Homo sapiens: one gene and its partners. The protein of the gene in region 1 interacts with the protein of each later gene in a pairwise test. Each region holds a gene or a part of one and is shown in the gene's direction. Other genes may lie near its edges.

Evidence for each region.
Region 2: the proteins of QRICH1 (region 1) and ACTL9 interact in a two-hybrid assay, tested with the Homo sapiens proteins (one large-scale study listed by BioGRID).
Region 3: the proteins of QRICH1 (region 1) and TRIM59 interact in a two-hybrid assay, tested with the Homo sapiens proteins (one large-scale study listed by BioGRID).

Annotation. Positions count from the first base shown.
Region 1 is NC_000003.12:49,084,058-49,087,784, reverse strand, and holds part of QRICH1 (transcriptional regulator QRICH1), read left to right. Parts: intron 1-3,727. UniProt on the Homo sapiens protein: Transcriptional regulator that acts as a mediator of the integrated stress response (ISR) through transcriptional control of protein homeostasis under conditions of ER stress.
Region 2 is NC_000019.10:8,696,715-8,700,210, reverse strand, and holds ACTL9 (actin-like protein 9), read left to right. Parts: upstream 1-1,415; 5' UTR 1,416-1,509; coding exon 1,510-2,760; 3' UTR 2,761-2,811; downstream 2,812-3,496. UniProt on the Homo sapiens protein: Testis-specic protein that plays an important role in fusion of proacrosomal vesicles and perinuclear theca formation.
Region 3 is NC_000003.12:160,439,787-160,443,286, reverse strand, and holds part of TRIM59 (tripartite motif-containing protein 59), read left to right. Parts: intron 1-3,500. UniProt on the Homo sapiens protein: E3 ubiquitin ligase involved in different processes such as development and immune response. Serves as a negative regulator for innate immune signaling pathways by suppressing RLR-induced activation of IRF3/7 and NF-kappa-B via interaction with adapter ECSIT.

The DNA of each region.
Region 1 (3,727 bases):
CTTCTGCCTCAGCCTCCCGAGTAGCTGGGACTACAGGCGCATGGTACCCCGCCTGGCTAATTTTTGTATTTTTAGTAGAGATGGGGTTTCACCATGTTGGCCAGGCTGGTCTTGAACTCCTGACCTCGTGATATGCCCGACTCGGCCTTCCAGCGTGCTAGGATTACAGGCATGAGCCACTGCACCTGGCCTATTTTTTTATTTTTATTTTTTTTAAATTTATTTTTCTTATTATTTTTTGAGATGGAGTCTTGCTCTGTTGCCCAGGCTGGAGTGCAGTGGTGCGATCGTGGCTCACTGCAACCTTCGCCTCCCGGGTTCAAGTAATTCTCCTGCCTCAGCTTCCCTAGTAGCTGGGACTACAGGCACCACACCTGGCTAATTTTTGTATTTTTAGTAGAGACAGGGTTTCACCATATTAGCTAGGCTGGTCTCAAACTCCTTGTGATCTGCCTGCCTCAGCCTCCCAAACTGCTGGGATTATAGGCGTGAGCCACTGTGCCTGGCCTATTTTATTTTATTTTTTTGAGACAGAGTTTTGCTCTTGTTGCCCGGGCTGGAGTGCAGTGGCGCGATCTCGGCTCACTGCAACCTCCGGCTGCTGGGTGCAAGTGATTCTCCTGCCTCAGCCTCCCGAGTAGCTGAGGTTACAGGTGCCCACCACCACGCCTGGCTAATTTTTGTGTTTTTGGTAGAGATGGGATTTCACCACGTTGGCCAGACTGGTCTTGAACTCCCAACCTCAGGTGATCCGCCCACCTCAGCCTCCCAAAGTGCTGGGGATTACAGGCGTGAGCCACTGCACCGGGCCCCATATGAATGTATTCAAACTGGACTAAGCTATGAAGAGCCATTGTTGGAGTAGATGTGAACCTTGAGGGGCCTCAAAGCCCAAGGAAGAGGTAAGGTTCTGAGGCAGTTCAGACTTCTTTTAGTCCATCACGGATTGAAGACTCACTCTGCAGAGCCATACAGGGGGCCCAAAAGAGGTATCAGGGATAAGAAACCCAAGAAACAGTGATTGCAATAAGATCTTCCCTTGGTACCTAAACGGAAAAAAGAAAAAAATTAGCAAACAGACCTATAGAAATGTAATAGATTGTTGTTTTGGAGTAACCTTTGTCCATGGTACCATCTTATGTTCTAATAATAAAATAATAAAAATAATAACTCATGTAGTGAAGAATTGCTGTGCATCAGGCACTATGCTAAGCTCCAGTAGGAGGAAATACAGAGGAGCCAGGCGCAGTGGCTCACACCTGTAATCCCAGTTTTGGGAGGCTGAGGATCACGAGGTCAGGAGATCGAGACCATCCTGGCTAACACGGCGAAACCCCGTCTCTACTAAAAATACAAAAAAATTAGCCGGGCGTGGTGGTGGGTGCCTGTAGTCCCAGCTACTTGGGAGGCTGAGGCAGGAGAATGGTGTGAATCCAGGAGGTGGAGCTTACAGTGAGCCGAGATCGCACCATTGCACTCCAGCCTGGGCGACAGAGTGAGACTCCATCTCAAAAAAAAAAAAAGAAAAAGAAAAAGAGGGAGATACAGAGGAGATACCAGTGAACAATTTGATTTTATACCAGCAAAAATGTCCAGGGTCTGTTTAAGGGAGGGCTGGCTTTCCTTTATTGTTACTTATTTTTTTTTTTTTACAATGCAGCTATATTTAAAAGCGTTTAGAAGTAAATGCTTGTTTACAGACCTCATACACCCCAAGAGCATTAGAGTATTTTCTTTTTTCATTATTAGTCTCATCAGAGTCCCAGAAATTGGGAACACTCAGATATCCTCATGGCTGCATGTTTTTCAGAAATACTTTAATTAATTTCTTTATTGCTTCTTACTAAGTCTTTTACTTGGAGCTAATTAAGAATCTTTTGTCTCTTTTAGAAGTTTCTCCATTTCTCTTTATTACGAAGGCTCAACTTTTGTGTCTTATGTGCAGCATCTTGAAGTTAAGTCTTCATTATTTTGTACAAGTTTTTGGTATTTTATGGTTTAGTTTCTTTTTCTTTTTTTTTTTTTTGAGATGGAGTTTTGCCCTTGTTGCCCAGGCCGGAGTGCAGTGGCATGGTCTTGGCTCACTGCAACCTCCACCTCCCAGGTTCAAGCGATTCTCCTGTCTCAGCCTTCCGAGTAGCTGGGATTACAGGCACGTGTCACCACACCTGGCTAATTTTTTTTGTATTTTTAGTAGAGGCGGGGTTTCATCATGTTGGTCAGGCTGGTCTCAAACTACTGACCTCAGGTGATCCACCCACCTCGGCCTCCCAAAGTGCTGGGATTACAGGTATGAGCCACCTCGTTCGGCAGGTTTAGTTTCTTTCAGATTTTGAAAGAAAATCGTACTATGATCAACCAGAATTACGTGTCTGTTACCATTACTACACTATAACCACTTGTATTTTTAGTAGAGATGGGGTTTCACCGTGATAGCCAGGATGGTCTCGATCTCCTGACCTGGTGATCCGCCTGCCTCGGCCTCCCAAAATGCTGGGATTACAGGCATGAGCCACCTCTTTCGGCCGGTTTAGTTTCTTTCAGATTTTGAAAGAAAATCATACTATGATCAGCCAGAATTATGTGTCTTACCATTACTACACTATAGCCACTGTGTAGAAAAAGATGATTTTTTTTTTTTTGAGACGGAGTCTTGCTCTGTCGCCCAGGCTGGAGTGCAGTGGCACGATCTTGGCTCACTGCAAGCTCCACCTCCCAGATTCACACCATTCTCCTGCCTCAGCCTCCCGAGTAGCTGGGACTACAGGCGCCCAACACCACACCCGGCTAATTTTTTTGTATTTTTAGTAGAGACGGGGTTTCACCGTGATAGCCAGGATGGTCTCGATCTCCTGATCTGGTGATCTGCCTGCCTCGGAAAGTGCTGGGATTACAGGCGTGAGCCTTAGATTAATACCACTTGTGGAAAATTCAGAAGAGTGTTTAACAGAAGAAACTTAATTACTCTGTGGTTCCATCATCTAGGCATAACTACTGTTAGCATTCCTTTTTATCATTTTTTGAGGTGGAGTCTCACTCTTTCCCCAGGCTGAAGTGCAGTGGCGCAGTCTCAGCTCACTACAACCTCCGCCTCCCGGATTCAAGCAATTCTCCTGCCTCAGCCTCTAGAGTAGCTGGGATTACGGGTGGCTGCCACCATGCCCTGTTAGTTTTTGTATTTTTAGTGGAGATGGGGTTTCACCATGTTGGCCAGGCTGGTCTCACAATCTTGGCTGGATGTGATGGCTCACGCCTGTAATCCTAGCACTTTGGGAGACCGATGCTGTGGATCGCTTGAGGTCAGGAGTTTGAGTACATCCTGACCAACATGGCGAAATCCCGTCTCTACTAAAATACAAAAATTAGCTGGGCATGGTGGCGGGTGCCCGTAATCCCAGCCACTTTGGAGGCTGAGGCAGGAGAATTGCTTGAACCTAGGAGGCGGAGGTTTCAGTGAGCCAGGATCGTGCCACTACGCTCCAGCCTGGGCGACAGAGCAACACTGTGTCTCAATAAAAATAAAAATAAAAAAGAATTTAGGCTGGGTGTGGTTGCTCATGCCTGTAATCCCAGCACTTTGGAAGGTGGAAGCGAGTGGATTACCTGAGGTTAAGAGTTCGAGACCAGCCTGGCCAACATGGCAAAACCTCATCTCTACTAAAAATATAAAAATTAGCCGGATGTGGGCCGGGTGCGGTGGCTCATACCTGTAATCCCAGCACTTTGG
Region 2 (3,496 bases), on another chromosome or scaffold:
TCTCCTGCCAGGAGGAAGCAGGTAACAACCCCTGGAGAGAAGGCAGACTTCCCCCATCCCTCATCTAGTTGGAGTACAGAGTAGAAATCAGGGTTGGCTTCCAGGAGGAGGTGGCATCAGACTGAGATTTGAAGAGGCAAATTCCTTCTTGGCAGGAATGGGACAGGGAGAATGATTCAGGCAGTGAATATAGCAGAGGAAGCAAAGAATCTAGGACAGGGGTGTTCCTGTCTCTCCCTGCCTCTCTCCATCCCCAACCAAGGCTGGCCTCTGTCTCCATTTGGAAACCAGGAAGCCATGCTAGCCCGCCCCACCTTCTAATTAATATTCTGAGGAGGAATATTCTAATATTCTAGGGAGGCCTGTGGCAAGCTCTCTGCCACTAGGCTGTAAATAGCTTCATGGCGAGGTACCCAGAGGAGGATTCCTGGGTCTTCCTGAAAGCGTGGCCCAAAGAGTTAGAGAAACCAATTTTGCATGTTTTTAGTGAAACCATGCCCCAAAGAAATGTTTGAGCTTGCAGAATGGCAGATCAAAAAAGAAACAACTTGCTGAAATGCCTTCCACTTATGAGGGTTTTTTGTTTGTTTCTTTGTTTGTTTGTTTGTTTGTTTTGAGATGAGTCTCGCTCTGTCATACAGGCTGGAGTGCAGTAGCATGATCTTGGCTCGCTGCAACCTCCACCTCCCGGGTTCAAGAGATTCTCCTGCCTCAGCCTCCCTAGTAGCTGGGACTACAGGCATGTGCCACCATGCCTGGCTAATTTTTTTTCTTTTATTTTCTTTTTCTTTTGAGACAGAGTCTCACTCCATCCCCCAGCCTGGAGTGCGGTGGCATGATCTTGGTTCACTTCAACCTCCACCTCCTGGGTTCAAGTGATTCTCCTGCCTCAGCCTCCCCAGTAGCTGGGACCACAGGCATGCGCCACCATGCCAGGCTAATTTTTGTATTTTTTGGTAGAGACGGGTTTCACCATGTTGGCCAGGCTGGTCTCGAACTCCTGACCTCAGGTGATCTCCCACCTCGGTCTCCCAAAGTGCTGGGATTACAGGTGTGAGCCACAGCCCCCGGCCCCAGAACTTTTCTAATAAAATTACTGCCTTAAAGCCAGCTGAGAAACAGACTTGTGCTGGATTCCTAGCTCCCAGTGGGTTGACATGCAACAAAAAGCTTGTCTTTTCTCAAAAACCAGGTGCCATCGTATTAGCTTCTAGCGCATCCGACAGAAATGTGTTAAGAGGGCCCTGCTCTGAGATGCTCATCTCCTCCTCCAAATTTGGCTCTTCAGAGAAGAGATGACAGCCTTTGGGCAGGCAGGGCTGGGCAGGGACCCATCCTCTTGGCTGCATTGTGATGTCTTAAGAAGACTGAAGGGGCACCGTGACGTCATAGATTGCGGGCCCACCCCTCCCCCTGTCTGCCTGCCCTCCCCACTGGCCGGGCCTCAACCTCTTCTCCCCGCAACCCCAACCCCAGAGGAAAAGCCCCCTCACCTGGCGTCCCGCAACCATGGATGCAAGTCGCCCCAAGTCCTCGGAATCCCAGTCCTCCCTGGAGGCCCCCAGGCCCGGCCCAAACCCCAGTCCCAACGTGGTGAACAAGCCCCTGCAGCGGGACTCCCCCGGCATGGTGGCCGACAGGCTGCCACCAAAGACCGGCGCGGTGGTTATTGACATGGGCACAGGCACCTGTAAGGTAGGTTTTGCTGGGCAGGCCAGCCCCACCTACACCGTGGCCACCATCCTGGGCTGCCAGCCCAAGAAACCCGCCACCTCGGGGCAGTCCGGGCTGCAGACGTTCATCGGCGAGGCAGCCCGCGTGCTCCCAGAGCTGACGCTGGTGCAACCCCTGCGCAGCGGCATCGTCGTGGACTGGGATGCCGCCGAGCTCATCTGGCGCCACCTGCTGGAGCACGACCTCCGAGTGGCCACCCACGACCACCCGCTGCTGTTCTCCGACCCACCCTTCAGCCCGGCCACCAACCGCGAGAAGCTAGTGGAGGTGGCCTTCGAGTCGCTGCGCTCCCCAGCCATGTACGTGGCATCGCAGTCGGTGCTGTCTGTCTACGCCCACGGTCGTGTCAGCGGGCTGGTGGTGGACACGGGACACGGGGTCACCTACACAGTGCCCGTCTTCCAGGGCTACAACCTGCTCCACGCCACGGAGCGTCTGGACCTGGCGGGCAACAACCTGACCGCCTTCCTGGCGGAGATGCTGCTCCAGGCCGGCCTGCCCCTGGGACAGCAGGACCTGGACCTAGTGGAGAACATTAAGCACCACTATTGCTACGTGGCCTCCGACTTCCAGAAGGAGCAGGCCCGGCCGGAGCAGGAGTACAAGCGGACTCTGAAGCTGCCCGATGGGCGCACGGTCACCCTGGGCAAGGAGCTGTTCCAGTGTCCGGAGCTGCTGTTCAACCCCCCAGAGGTCCCGGGGCTGTCACCCGTCGGCCTCTCCACCATGGCCAAGCAGAGTCTCCGCAAGTTGTCACTGGAGATGCGCGCGGACTTGGCCCAAAACGTGCTTCTCTGCGGTGGGTCCTCGCTCTTCACCGGCTTCGAGGGTCGCTTCCGGGCAGAGCTGCTGCGCGCTCTGCCAGCCGAGACCCACGTGGTGGTGGCTGCCCAGCCCACCAGGAATTTCTCCGTATGGATCGGGGGCTCCATCCTGGCCTCCCTGCGCGCCTTCCAGTCCTGCTGGGTCCTGCGGGAGCAGTACGAGGAACAGGGTCCCTATATCGTGTACCGCAAATGCTACTGACCAGGGCAGAGCTGGGGAGGGCGTGGGGGCAGTAAAGCCTCTGCTACAGCCGGCTCTGTCCTGTCCTTCCTCCAGGGCCTGCCCCATCCACTCCTGGGCACCTCGCCCCACAGGCTGACCTAACTCACCTCCTGTGATGCATGCCCTGAGACACCCCAATCCTGACCCCCTAAACCCACCTTCCCCATGAATAACTCCCAACAGACCACTAAGTTCTAATCCTGTCAACCCATCCTCCTGTGATCTGTGCCCCTCCCCAGGCACCCTTGGGTTGGGACACCCCCTCCCCAGACCACCTCTGACAAGTGCCCTTCCCATTTACACACTCCCAGAGATGGGGAGTTCACTACCTCAAGGCTATTGTTAGAAATATCACCTCCTCCTATGAGTCATAGATAAGCCTCCACCTGGCACCTGCCCCCAACCCCAAACATGAAGAACATGAAAGCCTCTGACCACCCACCCCATGCCCACACACACCCCTAGGGTCTGCCACATACCCAAGCCACATACCCAATTCCTTCCATTTCTAGTTTAAGTGATTCATGCATTGATCCCACATACATTCATTAATTACCCACTATGTGCCCAAGACATCCTCAAATACTGACTCCCTAATCTCACCCCATTATCTATTGCTTTTGATATAGCATCCCAAAATACCCCTGGGCTCCAAACCCTCCAAACTGCCACCCCCCTTAGTATGCTCCTCAGGGACCCCCCAACCCAGTCTCTA
Region 3 (3,500 bases), about 110 Mb from region 1:
AGATGTTCATCCTAGAAAATATACATAGGTTAATTTTTTGTTCTTTTTCTTCCTTTCAGAAGCCTAGACTGGTTGTGGAAAATTTCTGCTGCATAAAATTTCATATTGGTTTCTGAAAGAACTAGCCTGTAAGCATGGTAGCCACCTGTATCTTTTTTTTTTCTAAAAAAGGCAGGGTCTTGCTCTGTTGCCTAGGCTGGAGTGCAGTGGCACAGTCGTGGCTCACTGCAGCCTCAACTTCTTGGGCTCAAGTGATCCTCCTGCCTCAGCTCCCCGCGTAGCTGGGATTATAGGCGTGTATCACTGTGCCTGACTAATGTTTAATTTTTTGTAGAGAATGGGGGTCTCTTGGTGTTGCCCAGGTTGGTCTTGAACTCCTGGCTTCAAGTGATCTTCCCACCTTGGCCTCCCAAAGTGCTGGAATTACAGGTGTGAACCACTGCACCTGGCCCACCTATATAGTTTACTTCTCAGGCAGCAACCAGAGTCAGAAAGTTCCTGACCTTACAAAGTTATTTTTCAGTTCTAGTTTCTCTTGAATTTGTTGCCTAAAATTAGTTTTTAATCAATAAATCAGTGAGAAAAGGGTAGTCTGAGAATAGATTTTGACTTCTGTGAACTTCAAGTTATCCACAAATTTTTGTCTAAAAAGTATTATTAAAAATTTTACATATGATAGCAGTAACTTTGAGACCAACCACGATTTTTGCTTCCTATTTTTTTTTTTTCCTTTTTTTGAGACAGAGTCTTGCTCTGTTGCCCTGGCTGGAGTGCAGTTGCGCCATTTCATGCCTCAGCTTCCCGAGTAGCTGGGATTATAGGGATTACAGGTGTGCGCCACCATGCCTGGCTAATTTTTGTATTTTTAGTAGATACAGGGTTTCACCATGTTGGCCAGGCTGGTCTCAAACTCCTTGCCTCAAGTGATCCACCTGCTTTGGCCTGCTTCCATTTTATATAAGCTTAGGATATGCTTTACAATGTCATGAATATTCTCATTCTAAAGAAAGTTGAGCTTTTGGGCCCCTAAGTGCATTCTCAGAGTTGTTCCCTAGTTTTCTGCAAGCATAGAATAGGGGTTTGGATAGAAAAGTTAGATTCTGTTTTAGGACTAGTTTTGCTACTTAAACAATTGAATAGCTCCAGTAATATTAAATCTAGATTAAATGTACGTCGACTGCTCAAATTTTATTTCCTACAAAGTGTTATTCTGTTTATTCCTTCAATGTGAATTCTGACATCACTGAAATACTCTGAAAAACACATTTGTTTTTCTTGGGTGGTTTCTGTATGACTTCATAGCTTTCTGTAGGTGTAGGGTAAAGTTGTAAAGTCTTGCCAGCATGCACTCACTTGAATTTATCTGCAGTGAATGTCATCTTCTTTACTGTTGCTCAATTACTTTAATTTGCTGGAATGCTCTACAGTTCAAGCTTAGTCTCTGTGTGACACACTTTGGCTCATTCGGGATCTGAATATTGTCAGTTTGAATGGAGTGCTTTTTTTCTTTTTTCTTTTTTTTTTTTTTTTTTTGAGATGGAGTCTCACTCTGTTGCCCAGGCTGGTGTGCAGTGGTGTGAACTTGGCTCACTGCAAGCTCTGCCTCCCGGGTTGACGCCATTCTCCTGCCTTAGCCTCCCAAGTGGCTGGGACTACAGGCGCCCACCACCACACCTGGCTAATTTTTTTGTATTTTTAGTAGAGACGGGGTTTCACCCTGTTAGGCAGGATGGTCTCAATCACCTGACCTCATGATTCACCCACCTCGGCCTCCCAAAGTGCGGAGATTACAGGCGTGAGCCCCCGCACCTGGCCTGAATGGAGTATTTTCTGATAGATTTTCGTTTTACACCTTTTCCTAAGCAGAGATTTTGCTATTAAAAAAACAAAAAACAAAAAACCCCAAAACAAAAATCTGTATTAACACAGGTCTCTGAAAAGGCATTTGTTCATTGAAGCAGTAACAAGTGAATGCCTGCAGTGTTAAAATTTGTGCCTAAATTGCAGGAATATAACCATTGTTTAGACACAATTCCTGCCCTTATAGGAGGCCTACATTCTAATGTATACAGAAAAGTTACAAAATTCTTAAATAAAATCTTGTTAAAGTGCTATGAAGTAAAAATGCAGTGTTTAATGAGAATAACAGGGGACCTAATCTGGGGAAAAGGCAGGCTCAAGTTGAGCCTTGAAGGAAGAGTTAAGAGTTTGACAGATCGTAAAGATAAGGAGCCAAGTTTGCATTTTATTAAAAATGCAGTTAGTTACTTTTAGTTGCTGTTTTCACAGATTTTTAATCTTAAAAGTTAGTTTTATAGCATGTGATTTGGTAACCTTTATATTTTACGTGAATGGCACTTGGGTGTTTATTTTTTTTGAGACGGAGTTTCGCTCTTGTTGTCCAGATGAGTGCGGTGGTGTAATCTTGGCTCACTGCAACCGCCACCTACTGAGTTCAAGCAATTCTCCTGTCTCAGCCTCCCAAGTAGCTGGGATTACACGCATTTGACACCACACTGGGCTAATTTTGTATTTTTAGTAGAGATGGAGTTTCTCCATGTTGGTCAGGCTGGTCTCAAACTCCCAACCTCAGGTGATCCGCCCGCCTCGGCCTCCCAAAGTGCTGGGATTATATGCGTGAACCACTGCGCCTGGCCATGGCACTTGGGTTTTTAAGTTTTGCCTAAGGTACTTTCAACAGTGGTATAACTTGATTTTTCTCTATCAAGGGGTAAGCTAGTCTTTAGAATTGTGGCTGATGCATTGAGGGTAGGTATAAAGGAAAGCAGTAGGAGGTGGTAGGGTGCAAAATGGTCAGGCTTCTGTTACTGGAAATATCAGTAGTAGCTTGCCAAGAGGTCAAGTTACTTGTGTCAGAGATGGTCTCTGAACTATCGCTACGTTTCTTTTTCTGTCTCAGAGAAATACGGATCGAGAGACTTTCATGAAGGAAAGATGACTAATGGTCTTCTTTTTGTTCTTTACCATTTAGTGCTCTAGTTTTTCACTTAAAAATTAATTCACAGTTACTATAGTCAACTCTTATCTTTCAAACTGATTTTTATTATAAGAATTAATTCAAAATTTTTCTGTCTTCTAAATCTGCAAGTTAAAATTATTGCTTTAGAGAATTATACTATGCTGATCCTGGGGTTTAAGCGTTCTTGTATTCTAATTTGAGAAGCTAAAAAATTTATGGTAGTAACAGTTACTGTGGAGAAATTTGATAGCTTGCTTTAGAAACCATTATTGAGCCAACTGGGACATGTTTCCTCCTTTTGTGTTAAAGAATATACTTTTGCTAAGCCTAACTTGTTGTAATAGAAATAGTCTTGTCTACTCATTATATGTGCTTGGTTTTGATTTTATCATCTTAAATGTTAAAATGTTGCACAAAATAGTTGTAATCACTAAGTAGACTTTAACAGAACACTTTGAATTTTAGTCTTTATTATGTAGTGTATTAGTCTGTTTTCATGCTGCTGATAAAGACATACCTG